3 separate regions of the Homo sapiens genome follow, and regions 1 and 2 are each reported to be linked to region 3. Evidence: microRNA targets listed by miRTarBase, many of them from high-throughput screens and not tested one by one. Region 3 holds a microRNA gene; each other region holds the end of a gene's coding sequence.

The links. The annotated mature microRNA hsa-miR-548t-3p reads AAAAACCACAAUUACUUUUGCACCA and lies in region 3 at 2,134-2,158, shown strand. An mRNA with a match to its seed (bases 2 to 7 or 8) in the 3' UTR can be bound and repressed. Matches are read on the target gene's strand: a 7mer-m8 pairs with bases 2 to 8, a 7mer-A1 pairs with bases 2 to 7 and ends in A, and an 8mer does both.
Region 1: the mRNA of ANKEF1 is a reported target of hsa-miR-548t-3p. Seed matches in the 3' UTR shown: 7mer-m8 at 2,170-2,176 and 7mer-m8 at 1,144-1,150.
Region 2: the mRNA of SLC30A3 is a reported target of hsa-miR-548t-3p. Seed matches in the 3' UTR shown: 7mer-m8 at 2,202-2,208.

What each region holds. Positions count from the first base shown.
Region 1 is chr20:10,055,272-10,058,529 of GRCh38, reverse strand. ANKEF1 (ankyrin repeat and EF-hand domain containing 1) reads right to left here. Exons shown (of 11, transcript NM_022096.6): 11 at 227-3,028. The coding sequence ends at 2,870. The region is part of intron 3 of SNAP25-AS1 (SNAP25 antisense RNA 1); the gene reads left to right. Among named protein-coding and RNA genes, the nearest start is that of ANKEF1, 22 kb to the right of the region's middle.
Region 2 is chr2:27,252,603-27,255,860 of GRCh38, forward strand. It overlaps SLC30A3 (solute carrier family 30 member 3), which reads right to left. Exons shown (of 8, transcript NM_003459.5): 8 at 1,082-2,858. The coding sequence ends at 2,710. Among named protein-coding and RNA genes, the nearest start is that of SLC30A3, 8.8 kb to the right of the region's middle.
Region 3 is chr8:123,345,955-123,349,212 of GRCh38, forward strand. It overlaps MIR548AA1 (microRNA 548aa-1), which reads left to right and starts at 2,080; the gene lies at 2,080-2,176. It overlaps ATAD2 (ATPase family AAA domain containing 2), which reads right to left. Exons shown (of 28, transcript NM_014109.4): 15 at 2,229-2,319; 16 at 1,138-1,452; 17 at 664-796; 18 at 132-318. MIR548D1 (microRNA 548d-1) reads right to left here and starts at 2,176; the gene lies at 2,080-2,176.

The DNA.
Region 1 (3,258 bases), not on the chromosome of region 3:
AAATTAGTAGGTGAAAGTATGAAAGTAGAAGGAAATTTCCATAGTTTCAAAGTATCTATCTATCAGATATTCATTAAGTACAAGGAAAACTACTAGAGAGTTACCGGCACCAACTCTCCTTACAATAAAAAAATCCATGTATAAGTTTTGCCTCCCAAAAAACTTAGATACTAATAACTTACTGTTGACCAAAAGCCTTACCCATAGCATAATCAATTAACACGTATTTTGTATGTTATAAATACTGTATTTGTGCAATAAAGTAAGCTTGAGAAAAGACAACAATTGAACTCAACACAATAGCAACAGGAGGTGGCTATGAAATTATTACAGTTGTACAGTATGTACTACAGTTAATTTTATGCAGTTATGATTTATTACTGCAGCTTTACTTTTATTTACATTTCTCTCAACTGCAAATGCAGTTAAAGTTTATATCAGGTATCAACATCATGTGCCTCCTGATATGATGTACTGAGAAGGGTGCAATGACATCTGTAGCACTGCTGCCCCAAAAGCATCACCTGAATCTATTCTTGAAGACATTTAAGACAAACCAAAGTTGAGAGACATTTTACAAGATAAAAGTGGCTTGTGTTCTTCTTATATACTGTCATAAACAAACAAACAAACAAACAAACAAGAAATACAGGTTGTTCTAAACTAAAAGAGACTAAAGAGATGGGGCAAGCGAATGTATTTCATGACCTGGGAGTACAAAGGAAATTATTGGGATAAATAGCAAAATCTGAATAAGGTCTATAGATTAAATAGTTCACTTAAGTGTTAATTTCCTTAGTTTGCCAATGGTAATATTGTTATGCAAAAGAACATCGTGATTTTAGGAAATACACAATGAAATATTTAAAACATCATGTCTTCAACTGACACACAAATATGAAAACATCATGTGAAGAACATCATGTCTTCATCATGTCTTCAACGGACACACAGATAGTTCGGGGACAAAAATTAAACATACATATGCATATATGTAGAGGGAGAAAGAGATAGAGCAAATGTGGTAAGTGGTTAACATTTAGGTAATCTGGGTAAAGGGCATATAAGAATTCTTTGTCAAATTATTGCAACTTTTCCATAAATATGAAATTATGTCAAAACAAAAAGAAAAGAGAGAACAAAAAAACCAACCAAAACCTTACAAAACAGACAAAATTTAGTTGTAATAGCAAATCTTGGGATCCAAATGCAATGCTTGTAAGCAACCCCTGTTCAGGTCTGTCTCCTCCAGAGGGGTGGGCCTGGTTACCTGCTTCATTCTCTCTCTTCCCTTCTCCTCCCTAACTGGCTCCTGTGGAAGGTCCCTCCAAGGTTGGAAAGAGAGGGAGGAGGTTAGAGGAAAGGGGTTTAATCCATACGTGACTGACAGAGCTGTAATCTGCAATTGGTGCCTTCTGGTAAGGCAGATTCTAAAGTGGCTTCTTTCTGTCAATGAGACGTTGGATATTTTTGGAGCTCCTGTTCGGTACCCACTGCATTTCTTGGTGTGAATAATGCCTCAGCTAGCTTTTTACTGCAGAGTACACCTCCAGAGATGGTCAGTTTTATGACTCAACTTGGCTAGGTTGTAGCACCCAGTAACTCAATCAAATACTAATCTTAGGTGTTGTGGTGAAGGAATTGTGTACATGCAACCAATATTTACAATTCATTGACTTTATGTAAAGGAGACTGCTTTAGATAATCTAGGTGAAACTGATCCCATCAGTCGCTTTAACAACAGTTGAAATTTTCACAATCGTAATCTGGTTAGGTAAATGGATGCCTTTTATTTTAGGAAAGACATACTGAAGTATTTAGGTGTATGAACAAAACTGAGGTTTCCATGATGAAGAAGAAATTCCACTTGTGGACTTCAGGGACAGCTCCTGCATGTTTCCAGCCTGCACTTCCTGATAGCCTACCCTACAAATTTAGCACTTAACCATCTGGGGCCCAAAATTATGTAAACCAATTATTTGCAATAAATCTCTATCTATCTATCTATCTATCTATCTATCTATCTATCTATCATCTATCTATCTATCTATCATCTATCTATCTATCATCTATATATCTGTCTATCTGCCTTTCTAGCTAGCTAGATACCTAGCTGTCAGGTTGGAGCAAAAGTAATTGCGGTTTTTGCTGCAATTAAAGGTTATGGCAAAAACCACAATTACTTTTGCACCAACCTAATAGCTATCTATCTAGGGCTAGGGCTATCTATCTAGGGCTAGGGCTATCGATCTAGGGCTGTTAAAAGTGTATTCAACCCAAGGTATCTAATACACATAGTTTATAATGGCATGTGAGAAATAAACTCCTTCCTTAAAAGATTAAATATTACTTCTTTTTCCAAAACCTAAATTGTTTCATCAATTTCCACTAGAAATGTATCTTCAATAAGCAGGCTGGGCACAGTAGCTCATGCCTATAATCCCAGCACTTTCGACGGCCAAGTTGGGAGGACTGCCTGAGCTCAAGAGTTCGAGACCAGCTGGGGCAATATAGTGAGACTCTGTCTCTATTTAATAAATAAAAAGGATAATTAAAAAAATAATAAGCATAATGGTGTAGACCTGGTAAATCTTTTGACAGCAACGTTTATAACCCACATGCCATGTATTTCACTACATTCATAAAGGGGCTTGGGGATTTATCCAGAATGACATACCATTCATTTCAAAATAACATACATCTTTTCTCTAGACAGCTAAGAATATTTATAGTTGTTAAAGCAAAAAGAAATTCTTGGTAACAAGTTCTTGGTGTATGGATTGCTTTGGCTTTGATGGAAATATCTACTTTCTCCAAAGATTGGTCCCTGGGCCTCAAAGCATTTACCCCAAGAAATAACTGCTATGACTTAGGTCTTCAAGGCAGCTTCCAGTGCTCGAGCTTTCTCTGTGATGTTCTTCTGAAAAGGCATCATAAAATCGTCGAAGTCCACCTCATGTGTAAACCTCTCTCGCCGTAGTTCCCTCTTCCTGATCAGCTCTGCTGTTGTGGCTTCAGGACTCCAAATCTTAAAAAGAAAAATAGCCATACCCCAGCAGGTATGAGTATGACAGCCAGTAAATATGCTAATATCCAGACAATTTTCAATACACAGTTTTAACTTAAAAATTTGTTTATAGTTTTAACTTAAAACTATTAAATTTACTTTTAGATGTGTTTTAACTTCTTCCCCCCCTCTCATATGACACTAGTGGTTGCACGAGCATCACTGTTTTTGATGATGACTGTCTAGACAAA
Region 2 (3,258 bases), not on the chromosome of region 3:
GCAGTGGCGCAATCTCAGCTCACTGCAACCTCTGCCTTCCGGGTTCAAGCGATTCTCCCTGCCTCAACCTCCCGAGTAGCCAGGATTACAGGTGCCCACCACCATGCCCAGCTAATTTTTTTTTTTTTGAGACAGAGTTTCACTCTTGTTGCCCAGGCTGGAGTGCACTGATGCAATCTCGGCTCACCGCAACCTCTGCCTCCTGGGTTCAAGCAATTCTTCCGCCTCAGCCTCCTGAGTAGCTGGGATTACAGGCATGCGCCACCACACTGGCTAATTCTTGTATTTTTAGTAGAGACGGGGTTTCTCCATGTTGGTCAGGCTGGTCTCGAACTCCTGACCTCAGGTGATCCACCCACCTCGGCCTCCTGAAGTGCTGGGATTACAGGCATGAACCACTGTGCCCGGCCAAATTTTTGTATTTTTTAGTAGAGACAGGGTTTGACCATGTTTGAGACACAGTCTCACTGTGTTGCCCAGACTGGAGTGCAGTGGCACAATCATGGCTCACTGCAGCCTCGACAACCTGGGCTCAAGTGATTCTCCCCACTTAGCCTCTCAAGTAACTGGGACTACAGGTACACACTACCATGCCCAGCTAATTTTTGTATTTCTTGTACAGACAGGGTTTCACCATGTTGCCCAGGCTGATCTTGAACTCCTGGGGTCAAGTGATCTGCCTGCCTCAGCCTCCCAAAGTGCTGGAATTACAGGCGTGAGCCATCTTGCCTAGCTGATTTTTCTTTTTTTTTCTTTTTTTTTTTTTTTGATGGAGTCTTGCTCTGTCGCTCAGGCTGGAGTGCAGTTGCATGATCATAGTTCATTGCAGCCTCAACCTCCTGGGCTCAAGTGATCCTCCCACCTCAGCCTCCTGAGTAGCTGGAACCACAGACATACACCACCACACGTAGCTAATTTATTTTTATTTTTAATTTTTTTTGTAGAGACAGGGTGTCACTATGTTGACCAGGCTGGTCTTGAACTCCTGGCCTCAAGCGATCCTCCTGCCTCAGCCTCTCAAAGTGCTGGGATGACAGACATGAGCCACCAAACCCAGTGAGTTTGATTTTTTTTTTTTTTTGAGACAAGGTCTTGCTCTGTTGCCCAGGCTGAAGTGCAGTGGCATGATCATGGCTGACTGCTGCCTTGACCTCCTGGGCTCAGGCAATCCTCCTGCCTCAGCCTCCTGAATAGCTGGGACTACAGGTATGCACCACCACACCCAGCTAATTTTTAAATTATTTGTAGAGACAGGGGTTTCCCTAGGTTGCCCAGGCTGGTCTTGAACTCCTGGGCTCAAACAATCCTCCTGCCTCAGCCTCCAAAGGGCTGAGATTACAGGCACAGGCCACTATGTCCAGCTTGAGTTTGATTTTTTTTAAAGAGAAAATCAACAATCCCTTAATGAGCCTGATTTTAAGACTTAATGTGTCAAAATATGCAGTTCTTAAGACAAAGGGGGAATAGGTGTAAAAGAGGTCCTTGGTGTTCACAGCCTAAACCTGGACTCAGGGTTGGCTGCTATCAGGGTTGAGGGGTCCCTACCGCTGGACACCTTAGATGGCCTGAGAACCAAGCCCACATCAGTGCTATGGTCTAGCCATTCTCCCTCAAAGGGACCCAGCCTCCCTCCAGCCAGCCTGAGGCCCACTGGCATGCAGGGACCTCTGAGAACGACTGACTCCCAGGGATTCCTTGGCTCCTTACCTTCCAGCATTCTCCTGCAACCAAGCCCAGGGCACATGGGACTGTCCCTGAGCCAAGGACCCAGGCATGCTGTGAGCCAGGGGAAGGGGAGTAAAGAGACTGGTGGCTTTTACCCTCCATCTGAGGGTGGAGGGGCTGGGAAGGGACAGGAGGTCTGTGGGAGGTCACTCCAGAGGCTGGGAAGGGACAGGAGGGATTCTGTTGTTCTCAAGTGACCTATTTGACTTCCCCCTCCTGAGGAGTCAGCACACAGGCTGAAAGATGCAGTGAGACACAAGTTTATTGGTGGAGCTGCAGCGGAGTCCTCCCTCTTTCAGGGATAGCCAAGGGCACAGCACCAACAGAGGGATGGAGAGATAGACCCCCAAACAGACACATGGATGGAGCAGACTCATAGAAACCATAGCACAGCCACATAGGCACAGAGACACACAGGCCACAGCACCAAGAACACACACACACACACACACACACACACACACACACACACAGACAAAACCACAGGGCTAAGACACACGGACAAAGTGCGGGCTTTGGGGCCCCTGCATAGACAGAGCGAGGGCCATGTGGGGAGGGGGCCCCTACTGACCTCCCCCAGGCATAGGCACACCAACAGCACATAGACAGGCAGATGCCCCCAGCCAGCCAGCCTGCCACACAGACAAATGGACTGCAGGGAAAGGATGTTCGTGGCTCCACATGAACCATGGGGAGATGGCACCACAGGCCTTCAACACACCCTGCCACACTGAGGCCTGGGAGTCCCCGCCCCTGAACTAGTCACATCTATTCCCCTGACTCCCACCCCACTCCCCGCCACACTTTGGTCTTGCCCACTGGGGCTGGGGCTGGGGCTGAGGCTGGGGAAACTGGCAGGTGGTAGGAGGGAGAGAGGAAGGGGTATGGACCTGGCTCGGTCCCGTCTCTGTGATCAGGGCAGCAGATGCTGAGAGTCTGGGGCTGAGCCTCGGCCTGGCAGTGGGGTGAGGGCAGGGCCATGGCTCAGGCTTGGGGGGGTTCCTGGCAGCGCAGGCACTGGGCCATCTCCGGCTGATACTGCTCGACCTGCAGGGTGCAGCTGGAGAATCCAAACCGGGAGTAGAGCCGGGATGAGGCTTCAGCCAGGACGGCTTCAGGGTCAGCGGTGGAGTCTGTGGGAGAGTGATAAGAGGCGGCATCCATCCCGGGGGAGAAAGAACAGGCAGGGACTGAGATAAGGACAGGGAAAGGGGCTGCACAGCATTAAAGCCAGGCGTGAATGGAAGCCTGCTTTTCTTTCTGTATTGTATGAACAGCATAAAAGTGTCAAATCAAATGTTGGAGAGACTCACCCCAATCAACCATGCTAACACACTAAACTCTTTCCAGTCTCCTATTCTCTCCTGTCATTAAGTGTCAACATACAGCTCAACATTTCAGCAGCCATACCACCCGATTTCCCAGGACAATCCAGTTGTTAAATATCTGTCTCATTGTCCCTCTAGAGTTTCCATCAAATATCCCACAAATTATAATATTTTTGGCATACAAATTGCATGACTCTGATTGCTT
Region 3 (3,258 bases):
CATAACTCTGTTTTGTAAACCTAAAGTTACAAATCAGAAAGACAAAAAAACACAATACAAAAAAATGGGGCAATTTTAGCTTTTGCCTCTGAAAGCCTGTTTTGTCTTATACTTGGGCACCAACAAATTACCTGGGCACATGTTTCTTCAGGGGATGTAGTACTAACTCCAAAAAGAACAGGAATGTCTAATGTATATACAGTAAACTTTTCCAAAGCATGAATGACAGCTGGTGCCAAGTGAGAACCTTGCCCAAATCCTGGTTCTCCTACTATCAATATTCTTGGTCGAAAAGACATAGGTTGGTAACAAGCATTTCTGAAAGAGAAATGATTAATAAGCTATGTTTTAGAAAAAACAGTTTAAATTTTCCCCCTAAATTGTCAACTATAAACTTTCATAAGTAAAAAGTCTTGCCAATAAGGCCAACCAATCATAACATGGTTCACATAGTTTCTGGAAACTGACCCCCAAAGGTTTTTAGGAATATTTTTATAGACTGTAATTTCTACTGTTGTGACAACTGTAACAACAAAAAATTTCTGGTAGTTTAATTTAAATAAAAAGCAGATTGGTTAGCACTTTTTATTTTTTCAACCACATCTCATTTATTTTTAGAAAATTTACACATGCAAAAAACATTGATTTGCAAGAAAAATATACCTATTCAAATGAAGAAAATTAAAATTGTCTTTTGCCTTATGAGAAGATTTCTGAGAAAGTCCATTTTCATAAACTGATGGAACATCATCATCACTGTAAGCCAAGTCACTTTCTAGCAGAGGACAAGAAATATCTATAAAACCAAAAAATTGTACATTAGTAACTTTTGGATTGCAAAGCAAATCTTTATTGCTTCAGTTACCAAGTCAGCATACTTCAATTAAATTTTTTCAAAGAATCAAAAATATTTGTGTAGATATGAATTAATAAGTAAATGTAAAAATGCACCCCAAACTTACAATAAGTTAAATTAAGGGCAATCCATGGAGTAAATTTCCTTCAAATATCCCAGGTAAAGCATTACCAAATTCTTTTCAAGAGATTCTTTTACAAATAAATATTTCTGGTATGTATGAAACATTTCACTTTACTGATTATAAAAACTAACTTTAAATGGTCAATCAAGTTTTATACCTGAGTCTAATGTTTTATTTGTTCTGAATTCTGCATGTGGAAATACTCTCTGCAGGGCTTCTAAAATCTTGTCAACAGTGTTTTGCAGGAGTGGTTTCACAACGGTGGACAGTGCCTGCCCAGGTGATGTCACAGCTCTTTGGGAGGCTGGTATCATCTTTTGCATAGCTACCTCGAAATCCTTAGCTGAGATATTAATTGAAGAGAGATCCAACTGCAGTTTCTCACTAGTGGTATAGATCTGTGGGTAGCGTCGTCGTAAAGCACATAAAGCAGCTTCAGCACATATTGATTTAATATCTGCTCCACAGTATCCTATCCAAAGCAACCAGGGGAAGAAAAGAACCAGCCGACCAAACAAAGAAACACAAAACTCTATTAGCATGACCATGGTTAAAAAAAAAATTAAAAATCAGCCTCGGAATATAGTTAGCAAATATTTAAGAGTAATAAGACCAAAATCTCTTTTACCCAGTAAACTTATAGGGTAGTAATGGCCATCAACAATCAATCAACTTTTAAGAGTGCAATACACAAGCACTAAGTATAGCACAGAGGTCAAAAGCAAGAGTTTTAAAATCACACAGACTAGATTCACATTCCAGTTTGTAATTTACTAGCTGTATGACCTTAGAAGATTCACATAATGCTCTCCAGCCATTTCTTCATCTGTAGAGATACTGCTACCTACATCACAGGAATGATGTGAAAATTACATGAAATAATATATGTAAAATGCTTAAAAGGATGACTACAAAATGGTCAGTAAAGAATAGCTATTATCTTATTATGATATAATAATATATTGTATTTTGTACAATTATATTATTATCTACTCTGCCCCTGATGGCCAATTTGTCAAATATCTCTATTTAATACCAAGACTTCATGAGAAGAAAATGCCACAAATAAGAGATAAGAAACAAATATAACCTTGTATTTCTTTATTAGTCTGGTGCAAAAGAAACTGTGGTTTTTGCCATTACTTTTACAGGCAAAAACCACAATTACTTTTGCACCAACCTAATATAACTTGTTTCATATTTGAAATAAATGTAGTATTTATTTTAACTGCTTAAAACAATGTTTACCAACACAGTTTTCTGCTAGCTCTTCTAAAAATGTGTCCAGTGGTTTGGGATTCCAATCCCTGGTGTGAATCTTTAGAATCTCTTTTCGAGCCTATGAATAAAAACAATTTAATTTTTTACAACTATAATAATAAATGCTATTCAGATTACATTAATTTTGATTAAAATACTTTTGATTATCTAAAATTTTAAAGTGATCAGTACTTAATACTGGCCGGGTGCGGTGGCTCACACCTGTAATCCCAGCACTTTGGGAGGCCGAGGCAGGTGGATCACTTGAGGTTGGAAGTTCAAGACCAGCCTGGCCAACATGGTGAAAACCACTCTCTACTAAAAATACAAAGATTAGCTGGGCGTGGTAGCATGTGCCTGTAATCCCAGCTACTTGGGAGTCTGAGGCACGAGAATTGCTTGAATCCCGGGGACGGAAGTTGCAGTGAGCTGAGATTGTGCCACTGCACCCCAGCCTGGGTGACAGAGCAAGACTTTATCATAAACAACCAACCAAAAAAACTCAATATAAGCAAAATATGAAAGTGAAAATAAGAAAAAGGATGTACTTTTAAGAGTTTAATGAACTTAAGTCTCATTATTAAACATATTTGCATTTATAGCACTAAAGTTATATTCGTCATAAACACAAATAAGAGAAAAGTAACTACTAAAGTAGCTATTCATTCTGGTGCATATTAAGAGCTGTTTTTAAGAGTACAGACAGCTCTTGACATATTTTCCTCTTTGGTTCCCAGAAGATTAAGTAGACTTAAAAAAACTCGGTAGGATTATATGATGATATTCATGAAAAAGACAAGGCTAACAAACTGGCTAAGGATTGATTACTCATTAAGCCATATGTTCTGAAGCAACACTTAGAACATCCAAAGGCTACACTCAAATTGAAATAATTTTAAGAGTAATTTTGGGAAGGCATTATTATATTTAAAGAAAAGAATAAAAATTTGTCCCCATTTGAGTTGTTTACTATCATTTGACAAGACCATGATACAAAACTCAAGAATCTCCAAATTTT